Linked DNA regions of Homo sapiens: region 2 is linked to region 1. The links come from fine-mapping of genetic effects on gene expression. A gene starts in region 1. The other region holds a variant in brackets. All regions are shown on one strand. Distances are between the middles of the regions.

Evidence for each region. PIP is the estimated chance that this variant, and not a neighbour inherited with it, causes the effect.
Region 2: its variant is the best candidate, but not a certain one, in a credible set for the expression of PARD3 in whole blood (INTERVAL, PIP 0.58).

Annotation. Positions count from the first base shown.
Region 1 is chr10:34,810,217-34,818,351 of GRCh38, forward strand. PARD3 (par-3 family cell polarity regulator) reads right to left here and starts at 5,080. Exons shown (of 25, transcript NM_001184785.2): 1 at 4,660-5,080. The coding sequence starts at 4,779. It overlaps PARD3-DT (PARD3 divergent transcript), which reads left to right and starts at 5,552. Exons shown (of 2, transcript NR_108043.1): 1 at 5,552-5,585; 2 at 5,904-6,206. RefSeq lists silencers at 4,319-4,598, 5,119-5,288, 5,379-5,428.
Region 2 is chr10:34,752,595-34,760,729 of GRCh38, forward strand. The region is part of intron 1 of PARD3 (par-3 family cell polarity regulator); the gene reads right to left. Among named protein-coding and RNA genes, the nearest start is that of PARD3, 59 kb to the right of the region's middle. The variant C/CT (reference allele first, on the strand shown) is at 3,866.

The DNA.
Region 1 (8,135 bases):
CAGACTTATTTTCAAGCACAAAAATACTGCATAAAATTACCTTCAGGCTATGTGTATAAGGTACGTAGGAAACATAAATTCTAACAATACATTAGACTTGGGTTCCATCTTCAACCTATCTCATTATATATACAAAAATATCCCAAAGTCCAGAAAAATCCAAAATACTTGTGTGGTCCCAAGTATTTTGGATAAAGGATGCTCAACCTGTAATAACAACAGGTTGCTATTAAATCACTCTAAAGTGATGTGCTTGGGGACAGAAGCCAGAGGCCCCAATAATCAACCTGTAATCAAGCCAATACCCGCAGCTTTTACTTCCCCAGCCCATACACACATGCAACACACAATTTTGTTCTCCTGATTGTGGTGCTGCACGTCATTCAATCTCACATTCTTACCTATCCTTCAATGAAATTACATGCTGCGTTTTTAAGTAAACAGGAAAAATCCAAGCAGCAATAGTGGGACACCTGGGAAAGTTCCCTGGGTGTAAAACTGCTTGGTGGATAAAACATATTGGTGATTCCATTCATCTTTACGGAGCAGCTAGTATGGGCCGGGCCCAGGACTTTAGAGTTTCCCTCTCATCATCCTGTTTAATACTTACATTAACCCTGCCAGGGAATATTCCACTTGAGATAATGGGGCTCCGTAGGGTTGGTGTACCCAAGGTTAAATGGCCTGTAAACCTAAGTCACCAAACCCAATACAAAGCTCCCCTATACCCAAGGTTAAATGGCTTGTAAACCTAAGTCACCAAACCCAATCCAAAGCTCCCCTACAGGCTGAGAGGAGAGCTATGAGGGAGGTGGGAACAGTGAGCAAAGGGGCTCCAGCACCTCCTTGCCCTCACTTTTGCCCTTCACTCTCTCCTTCCCCTTTTGGTCACTCAGCAACCTTTATTTAGAATGAAATGCTAAGGAATTATCCATCCAAACCTCATCTAAGGTTGCTCAGGTCATCCTCCTAGAACTACTTGTTACCCTGACTCTTAGCTAAACACCACAGTCCTTCCTACTGCACGAAGTCTCAGGGTCTTGCCCTGGCATTCTGTCCTCCTCAGTTTGATCCTGACCCCCTGGGCTGAATGCCTGAATCGCCTTTGTCCATACTGCCTTCCTGGAATGCCCTCCCTTTCACTTATCAGAATCGTAGCAGACATTCTGCAGATTCACACACCTAGACCCCAACTGCAGACCTCAGACCCAGAGCCCATCTGCCCCTGCAGGCAGGTGCCTCACCCAGTTAGCAAGCACTGCCCTATATCAAGGTCAGCCTTCCCACCAACCAAGCCCAGTTCAAATCCTAGTGACTAAATGAGACTCCCACACACACCCCATAATGATAGCACCCACCTCCAAAATCCAGAAGCGATTACTGACTGTATCACAGTGGTGCCAATTAATGCTACCACCTCCTGTTATTTATACTGTTATATATTCTTCCTGTCTCCTAGATTATACTTTTTTTTGAAAATTGCACGAATTCAGTCTTATATTTTTTTCATAGAGCATGACTTTTTATACACAGCAGCCCTTCAACCAACCCCACACAGCGCTGCAGCTCAGCACCATGTCCACCTGGAATCACGCGTGTCAGGTCGCAAGCGCAGAAGAACAGATGCAGACACGGTCCATCCTCCCATCCTGCGCCCTCATGAGAACGGTCCATGTAACGCGGTTCCCAATGTCTAGCACCGCACTGTCCTCAGCGAGGCTCCTAATGCAGATGGGTGGATGAGGATGAACAGCTATTCCCAACCATCAGTGATCACAACCACAAAACCATCTTTCAGGAGAGGAAAAAAGAAATGTCACACATGACTAAGCATAAGCCTTCAAATATCTACTCACTGAGGACATGTCTAGTATTAAATCATGACACTTCACTATCCAGAAAAATTGATTTGTGTAATCTGAAGAGAAAACAGCTCACATGCAATGCCAGAAAATTAGCCCCACCACACCAGAAAATGTTTACTGCAGAGAAAGCCTTGGTGATTTGAGAGTTGGGACCTTTCTCTTTTCCTTTTTATTTTTTATTTTTGGCTTGGTTGGTTATTATCCAAAGCCATAAACATGATCTGCCCACACTTTTCCCCACCAGATGGGAGCTCATCAAGCCACATGTCACCTAGCAACCTAAACACCACTCCACAACTATCCAGCCACCCAATTCTTCACACAGAATTTCTCTTGTTCTATTAGGCAATACGGATAAGGAACAGATAGAGAATAAAAGTTAAAACAGTGTTAAATACATATTAACACTTCCTCATCACTTAATATAGAATGGGAAAAGTAGTAAGAAAGACTAAAAATTAATCTTAATCATTGTCTAGCAATTTCAGAAGAAAAACGAGAAAAAGGAGACCTAGAAGACACTCCAGCTCTGGCAACATTTAAGGGTCAACAATCTTGGGATCCAATGACTGAACTTGGTATACTGCAAAGCCCCCGTTAAAATTCACCTACAGAACTCTAAGTTGTACTTAAAGAGCATGTAAGTGTTGGAACCCCTGACCCATCTCTGACCCTCCCTCTCATCTCCAACTCCCATGTCACTATCACCCTCCCTTCCTTCAGCTCATAGGCCCCTTTTCTCTTTGTGACACCTTCCCAGACACCCTTAAAAAACTGCACTCCCTTTTCTACGCCCTGTGAAACAACCACTGCTAATCGTTAATAAGGACCAGGTCCGTGACCAAGGCCCTGCACTCTAGCCACCCAGCATCCCAGAGGCCACCTCTTCTCCCCATGTCATCACCAGCTCCTTCACCTGGAGGACCCCGCAGCCTCTTGCTCAGCTTCTCACAGCCAGTGGGTCCCTTAGATGTCCAGCACCCAGAACAGTGCCATGGACACAGTCAAAGCTTCAGAATTTCTGTGGAACGAATGCCTGGAACAACTACATTTGAACTACTGCCAAACAGGCAGTTCAGCCTATGTCTATTTTGTGCAGGATGAAACATGGGACACAGTAGGTAAAACAATTTTAATCACATAAAATTAGTAAAGTGAAAGAAAATGTTGACCACCCTCTTCCTATTCAGGAGCCTAGACGTACTGCAGAGTGCATATTACTTTATTTCTCTTTCCTTGCACAATTTGTTTTGTTGGTTTCCAGAGTGCCTGAACAATTTGAGTACTCTTTTGGAACATTTAAAGCATAAACTGTCACACATAAACAACACTTAAAAATGCTAAATGTCCATTTAGATGGTTTTCTTTCCCTTTGTCAGCTTTGCAAGATAAACAGGTGCCCAATTCCCACTAATTTTATTTGATTTTCAATAAAAGAGTTCAACTGTAAGGAACATAACAGAGCTACTAAAGCCAACGTCTTCCATCCTTGTGTCGGGTCTCCAAACGTCCCCCAAAATTATCTTTAAAAGGCCAAATTTATGCTATTTTTTCCAATATATACTAAAAGCAAAACAAAAGTCTAAAAAGCTTTTACTTCTTAATTTCTGAGAGAACTGAAGATGCCACCGGAGTACCCTGTGTACGCTCAATAGGGCTGACCAAGCCACTTTCCAACGTCATTTGCAGCCCCCAAGCCCACAGGGGCCAGGCCACTGTCGGGAACAAATGGGAAATACTGCACCCAAACGAATGCGCTCCCCACCAAAGAGGACTCTACTACAAAGGAAATATATCCCCGGGTGCTTGGGAGAAACTTCAGCGTGGGCTGTTGTCAAACACAGACACAGTCGGTAAAACAATTTAACAAAACGCCTTTTCACTTCTGACACACAGTAGAGGAATGCTGTGAAGTGGAGACAATGTTATCAGTCCACCAGGAAAAAGGGAAATCCACTCAACTCCCAAGTCAGGCCCGGCCCCGCAGCCCAGCCACATGGAACCAGCCCGGGATAGGTAGGAGCTGAGGTCCTCGCAGGAAAACTTTTCATTCCGCGACTCTTCCAAGGTTGTGCTTTCCAGAGCCCAGCAAGTGGGATCAGCTCAGTAAATGCTCGCAAGCGAGTGCCAAGTGCCAGCGGTGGCCCTCCCGGGAACGCCTCCCCGACCCCAAGCCGGCGACTCCCCAAACCCTGCAGCCCCCGGACGCGACGGGCCGCCCCTGCCGGCCCCTACCAGCAGGGGACATGGAGGAAAAGCCCCCCGCCGCTGTTCCGCCCCCGCCCGAGTAAGGGAGAGGAGGCAGAAGGCTCGCAACCCGCCTCTGTCGGAAGGGCAGTCACGAAACTCTCCTCACACCAAAAGTTCCCAGTCCCCGGCCTGTGCCCCCGGGGCCTGGGAGCCGGGAAAGGCCTGGGGCTGGATTTCCCGGCCTGCGCCCCCCGCGCGCTGGCTCGGGGCTTGGCTGGGTCTGCAGACTCCGGGGAGGCGCCCAGGGCCGGCCTATGCGCCGCTGCCCGGCTCGCCCCGCGCTACCGAGGCCGGAGCTCCCGGGCGGAGGGTGAGGGCGGGGGCCGCGGGACCCGGCTGGGTGTCCCAGAGGCTGCGCCCCGGCCCGCGCAGAGAACTTTGGCGCCCGCAGTCCGGGGCGGGGGGCGCCCGCGAGGCCCGACCGGCCGCACTTTCCCTTTCCCCGCCTCCCTGCGCCTCTCCTCCCCCTTCCAGGAAGCGCCATATTGATCCCGGCGCCGTCCCCGCCGCCGCCCCCTCCCCGCCCGCGCCCCCGGCCCCTCACCTTGGCGATGGCCTTCCGGTAGCGGGTCACCGCCTGCTGGATGAGGCTGAAAACTTTCATGTGGCCGTCCCCGCACGGCACGACCACCCGGGTCCGTCCGAAGCACACGGTCACTTTCATGCCGCCGCCGCCGCGGGCGGGCCCGCGCCCCTCGCCGAGCGCAGCCGGAGCAGCCGAGGCCGGGACCGAGGACGCTGGGCGCGGAGGAGCCGCTGGGGACTCGGGCGCGCGGGCGGCTAGGGGCGCGGGCAGGCGGCGGCGACGCCGGGGGGCCGCTCAGCTCGCATGCCCGGCCCGGCCGCCCTCGCCTCGCCTCGCTTCGCCCGGGGCTTGCCTCGCCTCTCCCCGCCGCGGCGCCCGCAGCCTCCGGCCACCTGTTCGGCGTCGCGGCGCGCTCGCCGGCGGCTGCCCGGGGCTGTGTGGCGCTGGCGCTCGCTCGGGGCCGCTGGGGGAGGGGACGGCGGGAGGGGAGGGGAGGGGAGGGGAGGGGAGGGGGAGGAGCAGGGCAGGGCACACAACACCGCGCACATGCGGCAGGGGGAGGCGCGGCCGGCTACCCGCGCGGGGCGGAGCGCAGGACCGCAGCTCGCGCCCCCGCCACCGCCCTCGGGGGCCGACCTCCTTCCCTCCTTCCCTCCCTCCCTCCCTCCCTCCGGGGGCGCGGGACCCCTCGCCCCAGTGCCAGCACGGGCAGGCGGCCGTCTGCCCCCACCAGCCCTGGCCCAGGCGCCCCCCAGCCCCCTTCACCCCGCCCGCCCAGCACCCTGCAGGGCTGCGTCGCCCCTCCTCGGGGACGCCCCTTCCACGCCTCCAGAAGTCTCCACGGAGCCCCCCTTCCCCTTTCTTTGTCACTTTTAATCCCATTCCTCGAACTGGAGGGTTTTGGGTGCAGGCGCTCCCGGGGAAAGCAGTTTGTGCTCAGTGCGGTGAGTCCCCTCCTCACCGCCCCGGAGGCTCCAGCCCGAGCCTCTCCGCCCGCGGGGACTCGAGCCTGCAGCTTGCTCGGCTGGGTTTCTGCCCTGCCCGCTCCCTAGCTCTGCTGCAGGGCCGGCAGCGGCAGTTCTGCCTGAAACGCAAGAATTAATAGTCTGCTCTGGGGAGACAGTGGGGAAGCCGTGAGCGACCGGGCCTTTTCCAGAGGCCACTATTTACCTTGAAGTTTCCTGTTGACCCTCTGCTGACCCACCCGCTTAAATAGATTAGAACTTAAACATCGCAATTCTGATACATTTATTTCTTTGAAGTTCTGCAGCATAAGGAATCCTAACGCGAATCCGTGAACAGTCTATTCCGACGGCGCAGAGAAATCTCACGCGGGGATCCCCACGATGTGCCGGCGCTTAACGCAGACGCCCGAACCCAGGGGAAGGCTGCGACTCCGCGATGAGTGACATGCGGGCTTGAGACGTTCTAAAGGAACGTGGACCGAGTTAGGGAACGTAACTGAAGCTCATTTTGTCTTAGTTATGGACTATGAGTCCTTAATAAATGTATGTCATTATGTTTAAAGAATGACAAATGTCTGCAAAGAGTGGTCCCTGTCCCAAGCCCTTTCCAGACTATGTGAAATTCTTTTTTGCCAGTTGTTTCCAAGACACGTGAAAGCAATCAAGCTCCCCTGGGTTGGCGCAGAACTTGAGCACTTAAGAGCTGGAAGAGCTGGCGATCGACCATCCATCCCACTCCACCTCCAATCTTAAAACAAGGAAACAAGACACGAGGTTCGTCCGCTTGCCACACTCCCTGCGCTTTGCAGCACCGCAGCTGCCCCAGCATAGTGCAGTTTCTCCTAGGAAACATTGCCCTTCCTCTCCTCTCCCAGCCCTGGACCACCACTTTCCACCACCTGTCCCAGCAAATCAGTGCAGTGGTGTTAGCCCCATCTTACTCCAGGACATTGACCCAGGGCCAAAGTCACTTGCCCAAGGCGGCAGAGAAAGCTCAAGGCAGACCCAGAAATAGTCTAGGTTTCCCTCCTTCCACTCAGCCATGGGAAAGGCTCCTCCTACTGCTGTTTGGCTGCAGCACTAGACATTTCTAGCCAGTAATTAAGTTTGTGACAACGATGACAACAACTGTTGATGTGGGTTTTTTGCTTCTTACATAGATACTTGGATCCACAACAACAATTACTGATAATTATAGGTGTTGTTTCTGTTTTCATGCATTGGGAGAGTATACTACTAGTTTAGAATGTATACTACTTTATTTTATTTTGTGTTTTTTACATTTATTTATGTATTTATTTTTATTTATTTATTTATTTATTTATTTTGAGACCAAGTCTCGCTCTGTTGCGCAGGCTGGAGCGCAGTGGCGTGATTTCGGCTCAGTGCAACCTCCGCCTTCTGGATTCAAATGATTCTCCTGCCTCCGCCTCCCGAGTAGCTGGGATTATAGGTGCCCGCCACCACGCCCAGCTAATTATTGTATTTTCAGTTAGAGACAGGGTCTCACCATGCTGGCCAGGCTGGTCAATCCGCCCGCCTCAGCCTCCCAAAGTGCTGGGATTGCAGCGTGAGCCACCGCGCGGCAGAGAATGTATACTAGTTTTGATGCTACACTAGTTCAGAGGGGTATACTAGCTTGAGTATAATAAATTAGAGTGGGGCTTTCTCAAAATAATTCTAATCGAAAGTCATTTTTCAGTAATAACCAGAGTACATAGGACATCACACTGATCTAGGTTCAGATCCATATTTGGCCACTTACTAGTGCCTTAGACACAACAGTCACTCTTTCTCCAGCCCGTTTTATCAGCTGAAAAGTAGAGAAGTAGAGCTTATCATATCCATATCCATCTCATAGATCTCATAGGTTATGAGTCAGTCTTTCTTTTTTTTTGAGATAGAGTCTTGCTCTGTTGTTCAGGCTAAAGGGCAATGGCACAATCTTAGCTCACTGCTGCCTCAGACTCCCAGGCTCAAGCAATCCTTCCTCAGCCTCTAGAGCAGCTAAGACTACAGACAAATACCACTATGCCCAGCTAATTTTTAAATTGTTTGTAGAGATAAGGTCTCACTATGTGGCCCAGGCTGGTCTTGAACTCCTGTCCTCAAGCGATTCTCCCGCTTCAGCCTCCCATAGTGCTGGGATTACAGGTGTGAGCCACGGCACCTGGTCATAAGTTATGAATGTTAAATAAAATAATGTATCAGAAAACAGTACGGCTGGGTATGGTGGCTCACGCCTGTAATCCCAGCATTTTGGGAGGCCGAAGTGGGCAGATACCTGAGCTCGGGAGTTCGAGACCAGCCTGACCAACATGGAGAAACCCCGTCTCTACTAAAAATACAAAATTAGCCGGGCATGGTGGCACATGCCTGTAATCCCAGCTACTCGGGAGGCTGAAGCAGGAGAATCGCTTGAACCCAGGAGGCCGAGGTTGCGGTGAGCCGAGGGCAACAAGAATGAAACTCTGTCTCAAAAGAAAAAAAAAAAAACAGTACATGCTGCCACGCTGCCACATGGGAATG
Region 2 (8,135 bases), 58 kb before region 1:
CACTGTGAAGTGTTTTTGTGTGATCAAGTGTAATCATTACATCAAATACTTGCTGCCTCTCAATTCAATAGAATATCTTTGCAAAATATTCAAGCAAAATGCACTTGCAAAGTGCATGTTGCATGCTATGACTTATATCAGAAGGCGGACGCTATTACCAGCCACACAACTTAAAGTGGAAAAATGGGAATTTAGTAATTAACAGAAGACAGTCCTTTGATTTGGGGTTATTATCTCCTTATGCAGAGACAGGGGCTGTGTGCGAATACCTCAGCTAAAGGCTAGTGTTTCAAGAAAGCCTATCCTTACCCTACCAAAACAATTACAGAGATTGGTCTCAAAGTCTGAGTGGAAATTCTCTTTTTCTAAAACTACCTGTTTTTCCAAATGCTCCATTCATGAGATGTTTTCTAATGGAAGAAAACAGCCAAGGCAGCAGGCTAAAGCCTCCTCCTTAATGCACTTCAGTCATCTCAGCCTGTTGTTTCAGTTCCAAGGACAGGGCCTCAGGATTGGTCTGAAAAGCACCTCGATTCTCCAGCTCCAGCAGGGGTCCTGATTGCTGTGTGTACAAACGAAGTCTCTCTTCTTCATACATGCCCACATGAGGAGCCAAAGGGGATGACACTCTATCCCCAAGGGCACTTGGACTGACAAATGGAAAAGCAAACTAAGAGCTGGGGACACCCTTGGAGAAGCTGGCAAATAAGCTCCAGGCAAACCTTGAAGAACAGGCAGACGACTGGTGCAAGCCCTGAGCCCTGTGTGCCACATCTGACTGCTGGAAGACACCAATTCATTTCGTCCTTACTATCCTCCTACAAAAGACTAGACCACCACAAATGAAGCCTTGGAATACAGCCATTTAACATGGCAAAGGCCCACACAAATATTTCTAAAGACCTTGCCACATGGACAACACAGAAAGTAGCTCATGTTCTGGTGAATAACGCAATTTTGTATTTTGCTGATGCCTGTGAAACCACCCAGTGGGATAAAAATAAATATTTAGCCTACTTATTGATAAAAATATCCTCCCAGTAGCCCATCCCTGGAGGGCATGGCAGAGGGTTGTGTGAATTCTGGACATGCATATGTTTGATTAATAAAATCCAAGAGGACATAGGTTTCAAATCTTCTTGTATCTCTAGACCAGCAAATCCAGCCATGGAGAGAAGCAGAGAATCACAGACAGGAAGAGTATGCCAAGCAAAAGCCGGGGCTGCACAAGCCATCTCAAAGTATGCAGGGAGTCAGGGAAAGGACAAGGGAGAACACACAACCTTAAAACAAAAAGGAGCACACAGTTCTCATCTAGGATACTTTTAAAGTGGCTTCCCCTGAATAAGTGTTTTTTATGATAACGTAGAAAAAACAAAAATAGTCATCGTAGATCAGACAACATATGGAATTCTGGTTTTATTTATTTTTTTTTTTTTAGAGACATCGTCTCCTTGTTGCCCAGGCTGGAGGTGCACTGATGCAGTCATAGCTCACTGCAGCCTCCTGGGTCAGGTGATCCTCTCATCTCAGCCTCCTGAATAGCTGGGACTATAAACACATGCCACCATATGTGGCTAATTTTACTTTTCGTAGAGATGGGATCTTGCTATGTTATCCAGGCTGGATTTGAACTCCTGGCCTCAAGCAATCCTCTTGCCTCAGCCTCCCAAAGTGCTGGGATTACAGGCATGAACCACCATGCCTGGCCTGGAATTTTTTATACTGCTAGATTAATTTATTGAGAAACATACAAGCATCTATTTACCTTACCAATAAAAACACTTTCAAGTCATAAGTAGCTCTTTCTACAACCCGTCTTATGAAACATCACGTGCTTTGTCCTGTACTTTCCCAAATAAGCAAGTTCTTTAAAAGCAAGGATCATATTTTACATTTACCTATCGTGTACACACCCACATGGCTACACAGAAAATACTCAAATACTTTATTAATAGAAAGTCTTTTGTTGCAACAAATCTCTCCTTTTCATATCATAGATACAATTGTTAAAAGCCACTAATTTTTAAATCAGGCAGATTTTCTTTCTTTTACTAACATGTAAAAATTCCAGGCTTCTCTGAACAAATTGGACAGGGTGAAATGAAACTATGCCAACCTCCAAAAACTATTTCAGACTGCGTTGGATTACAGACAATCCCCTGACTTAAACTATACACATACAAATACCTCATCAGAAATAATTCTAAGAATAACCTTCCTCCTGTTAATAAACGACATTTATGAGTAACTAATAACAGAAAGAGACACTTCAGCTAAAGCCATGATGTCAACAGTGATGAGAACATGAGGTGGGGCTTATAAGCAGGGACCTACATCCTTGACCACAAGGACACAAGACTACGTGTAAGAAGTCCTTAAAGCTTATGAGCAAATGGAAAGTTTTGGTCAATGTGAGATTGTCACTTTTCCAAGGTCCTTAAAACAGGCAGAGTGAGCCAAAAATCGACATTTTCAATGAGGCAAAGGATGACTGACAGCTTCAAGAAGAATTGCTGGGCCGAGGCTGGGCGCGGTGGCTCATGCCTGTGATCCCAGCATTTTGGGAGGCTGAGGCGGGCAGATCACTTGAGGTCAGGAGCTCGAGACCAGTCTGGCCAACATGGTGAAACCCCGTCTCTACTAAAAATTAAAAAAAAAAAAAAAATTAGCCGGGCGTGGTGGCATGCACCCGTAATCCCAGCTACTGAGGAGGCTGAGGCAGGAAAATCGCTTGAGCCAGGGAAGCAGAGGTTGCAGTGAGCTGAGATTGCACTGCTACACTCCAGCCTGGGTGACAGGAGAGAAACTCTGTCTCAAAAAAAATAACAGAAAAAGAATTGCTGGGCCGATCACAAGAGCCCAGTGCAAGGGTATGCCCTCCCACAGCAAATCTTCCTTTCATGAGGCTCAACTAGCAACTTGAGAGGTCATAACTTGGTGTCTGTCTATGCTCAGTGCTACTAGGATCTGGATCTGCTTGTAGTTAGCAGATAACCTAAACTGCCCTCTGATGTTGGCATCTGATCAGCTTCTCAGCAGTTTTCTCATCAAATGATTTCCAAGAACAGTCTCTCCTCAAGAATATGGATACTCAAAGATTTGGCATTAAACTGGGAATTGAGATGAGGAATGGGAAAAAGAAAACATTCCATCCTAAGCATATATAACATGCTTTTTTTTGCCATTTTTCCCCTTCTGTCTCAATCAACCAATTACAAAACTAAAATGATAATGACAAATCAACAAGACAGGCATTAATGTTAAGGCCCAAGACAGGCTGTGCTTACCTGCTTCAAAGGCCACCATATCTGAGAATTGTACCTACTGGCCCCACTTGCTCTAGTTCTGGGGACTAACAGCTTCCCAACAACCATGAAGATGCCCATGGTCCTTTACTCTAGTCTCACACAGGAGCACCAAACTTACAATAAGTTGTTAAACCAAACCAGCAGAGAGAGGGGCTAGGATGCTAATCTGGGTTGAAATCACTGTACAGGTTGGCAGTACCCCTCACCCTCCCTCCTCCAATCTCCCCATGGCAAAAAAATGCACCTTTTTTTTTTTTTTTTTTTTTGAGACGGAGTCTTACTCTGCTGCCCAGACTGGAGTGCAGTGGCACGATCTCAGCTCACTGCAAGCTCCACCTCCTGGGTTCACGCCATTCTCCTGCCTCAGCCTCCTGAGTAGCTGGGACTACAGGCACCCGCCACCACACCTGGCTAATTTTTTGTGTTTTTAGTAGAGACGGGGTTTCAGCGTGTTAGCCAGGATGGTCTTGATCTCCTGACCTCATGATCTGCCCGCCTCGGCCTCCCAAAGTGCTGGGATTACAGGCTTGAGCCACCGCGCCCAGCCAATGCAC[C/CT]TTTTTTTTTTTTCTTATAAAAAAAAAAAAAAAAAAAAAGAGTCAGCTCTGTTGCCTAGGCTGTGGCGTAGTGGTAGTCCTGAACGCCTGAGCTCAAGTGATCTTCCTGCCTCAGCCTCAAGTAGCTGGGACTACAGGCATGCACCACCACACTTGACTAGTTTTTTTACTTTTTATAGAGATGGGGTCTCACTACATTGCCCAAACTGGCCTCAAACTGCTAGCATCAAGCAATCCTCCCGCCTCAGCCTCCTTAAGTCTGGGATTACAGGTGTGAGCCACTACACATAATCAAAGCCATTCATCATTTTAAAGACAATCTCTGTCCTTTGAACCAATAAAATAATCACAGTGCAAAGCTCCGAGTTCCTGGTGAACAGGCTGAAAAGACAAAAGGGAACACTGCTAACAGATTTTTCAACCACTGCTTTCTTCTCCGAAAATTTTCTTCTTTTACTTTTCTGCATGAATCTTAGTTTCAAATTTTAGACTCAAATCACCAAAAGGTACTGTCATCCCCCTAAAAAAAGGTTCTAAAGTCATAAACAAGATAAATAACATAATGTCTTGAATATCTGTGAGGAAAAATTTCTCCTTGATTCCTCTGGTAGGTGCAATGTTTTTTATCCAAATCTGTTTTCGAAGTCTATGACAGCATTTTGCATCTTTTTCTTTACTTAGAGCCTTCATTTATATTAGAACTTCCTCACATCTAAAATACATATTTCCACAATATCTGCACAGGAGGTTCAAACACAGTGATCATGACTGAAAATTATAGTTAATTACTAGTCAGCACTAAAAATAAAAAATTTAAGTTCTTATTCTCATCTAACACAGTATCTGGTTAACAGAAAGTTGCAAATAACTGTGAGGTGTGACATGCTACAGCCTGTCCTTCATCTACCTGTCTTTCCTTTTCCACTTCCTGACTCTTAAATTGTCTTTAAGAAAACATGTCCTGGCCGGGTGCGGTGGCTCATGCCTGTAATCCCAACATTTTGGGAGGCCAAGGCAGGCAGATCACTTGAGGCCAGGAGTTCGAGAGCAACCTGGCCAACCAACATGGCAAAACCACATCTCTACTAAAAATACAAAAAAATTAGCCAGGCACGGTGGCTCACGCCTATAAACCCAGCTACTCGGGAGGCTGAGGTGGGAGAATCGCTTGAACAAGGGAGGCAGAGGTTGCAATGAGCCAAGATCGTGCCACTGGGCGAAACCTGTCTCCAAGAAAAAAAAAAAGAAAAGAAAAGAAAAAAGAAGAAAATACATCCTGAAAACCATTGCAAATTCTACTCATGCCAACTAGGACCATGCCCAGGATTCTGGTCCCCAGTTAACCTCATCAGTGACACATTTTTCTGCCGCTGGTCATAAAATTCAGAGTAAACGATGCCCCATTTTGTCCTTGCACTGGAAGGGTTCTGCTGATGATGCTTCAGTATACTATTAGAAAATTCTCCTCTCTTCTAGATAAACCTGCATCTGTAGACATAAAATGTTTGGGCATATAATTTAATTTCCTAAACCAGCTTCCTTATTGGCAGACTTTGATACTCCTAAAAATGCATCTGTTCCTGACCCCTTTGCAAGCACTCAAAGTATTCATTCTGTAATCCAATATTGGCCTAAACTATGAAATGCTAGAAAATGCTATAATTATCTACATGGGCCACTTTAAGAAAACCTCATGCAATCAGGGCTTAGTACTAACATGAGAAAAGCTAGGATAAACATTAGCTGAGTAAAGAAAAAGTTTTAAAATCACATCAACTTTTTTGGAGTATCCAACAATTTCCACATGCCACTGCTATATGTTATTTTACACATTCTTTTTAACAAATCCCTTCAAGAAAGGTAGTATGCTCCCCATTTTACAGATAAGGAAACCCAGGTTCAGGGAGAGGTAAGCAATTTTTCCAAATAACACAGCTAGAAAGTGGCAGAGCATTATTCCAAAGTCTTTCCACTCCACCACACTATGCCTCATAACCATCTGCAGAAGAGCAGCTTTGGAATGAAGGATATTAGGAGAGGCAAGTGAATTGTCACTGGGAAGTCACTGTGTTGCCCACAATTTCCTTCTTCCTCTTATCACGTCACACTGTCTACAGAAGGACACCTCATGATGAGTCATTTTCTAGTTGGGGCACTCAAGCACTAAGGCCCTTCAACTTACAGACAGTGTAATATGGAAATGTGTTTTAATCCTGGAAGCACTGAGTTTGGATTAATTTCACTTTACTCATTCACAGAAGAAAAAAATTCCTGAGAACAGCTCCTACCTAAAATGCAAGAACTAGAAAAGTCCAAGCCCACCCTGTGAAAGGGCACACCTGGAAGCTCCTTAAGTTGGTGACGGATGACAAGGAAGGTTTAACAGCACAGGAAATTCCCCCATGGTATAAATTATACTAGGTGTGACTGAAACGGCTAAATTAGGTCATGATAGATGGTTGTGTCAGACAGAACAGGTTATGCAAACAAAGACTATGACATGGAGGATGATTTTTGCTGCACAAAAAGAATAGAAAGAGGCGGAAGGAAAAAGCTACAGAATCATAGGCACTGAAGATAAATGAAAACTAAAATAAATGAAGACAAAATTAAATGGCTTCCAGTAATCAAAATTCAATACTGAAACTTTTTTAAAAAGAAAAAAAGAAAAAAAAACTCAATACTGAGAATAGATACAACTCAATGAGAATTGGATATGAAGCACTTTTTTTTTTCTAATAGGAACCAAAGAAATATACTACGGCATAGAAAACTGGCTCAGAACAGGGTATGCAACGGATTTTATTCACACGTGTAAATCTTTAAACTTAGGTCCTAAATGGTCCTATCACATTAGAAGAAAAACAATGTACATAATATTTAATCAATGAGTAAGCACTTACTAGATACACTGTGCTCTTGAGAACTGTTTCACAAGTGGCCTTGCTAAAGTAGAATATCACATTTTAGCTAGAACCACCCAAGTATTTCTAAAAGTGACTGGTATCTATTCCACGCATCAACAAAAGGGAAAAAGAAACTTCTAGAACTTTCCACCTCAAACATTTCACTGAAGGATGATGCACATAGCAATCAAACATTCCGATTTTAAGCAAGTAAAAGAGAGCAAAGAAAAAGTATTCATATAAAACAGGAAGTGAGAGGGACAATTTGAGGCAGCCAATTCAACAGCACATCGCCTAAGGCCAAGGCAGAATTATTTTCAGCAGGCAACATGCTACGCACAAGGATTTCAGCCAGCATAACGTGTGTGCTGCGGTAAAAATACTACTGAAGAGGATTCTTGAATAAAGGCACCCACCATGGCATTTCACAAGTCACTTTATTCCACATGTGGAATAAGAGACAAACTGCCTTATGGCTTAATTTTTAATATCATGTGAAAAGCTCTGCACATACTGCTGCGCTTTCTGATTTTTGTCTACTTTATTAGCTGAGAACACTTATGAATCTAAAAATACTTCGTTTTGGGGAGTGGAATTCCTTTATTCGTATTTGCACATGACTTTACCTGTCAAAATCTTTCACAATGCCACTAGGTATATAGGTTTCAACAAGTTTAGTATAATTCCAATCTTAGCCAACTATATTATGTAAGTAATCTCAATGTGGGAGGCAGCCTCTAAAATGATCTCCCTATCTTCTGGTTTTTATGTCTCTGTGTAAACCCCTCCCCAATCTACCTTTTTTTGGCAGGCGGGGTGTGGGGGACAGCGCAGCGGTGTAGAAACAGTATTTATTATGTTGCCCAGGCCGGTCTCCAGCTCCTGGACTCAAGTGATCCTCCCACCTTGGCCTCCAAAAGTGCTGCGATTACAGACATGAGCCATTATGCCTGGTCCCAATCTACTACTTTTTTTGTTTGTTTTGAGACAGGGTCTCACTGTGCCACCCAGGCTGGAGTGCAGTGGTAGGATCTCTGCTCACTGTAACCTCCACCTCCTGGGTTCAAGTGATTCTTGTGCCTCAGCTTCCCAAGTACCTGGGATTACAGGCACCTGCCACCATGCCCGGCTAATTTTTGTATCTTTAATAGAGAAGATCGTTTCACCTTGTTGGCCAGGCTTTCTAGAACTCCTGACCTCAAGTGATCTGCCCGCCTCAGCCTCCCAAAGCGCTGGGATTACAGGCATGTGCACTGTGCCCAGCCCCATTCTACTTCTAATATAATAGCAGAAGTGACAGGATGTTGCTTCCAAATTAGTTTATAAAGAGCATGTGCCTTCTGTTTTAGGCACTCACTGGCTCT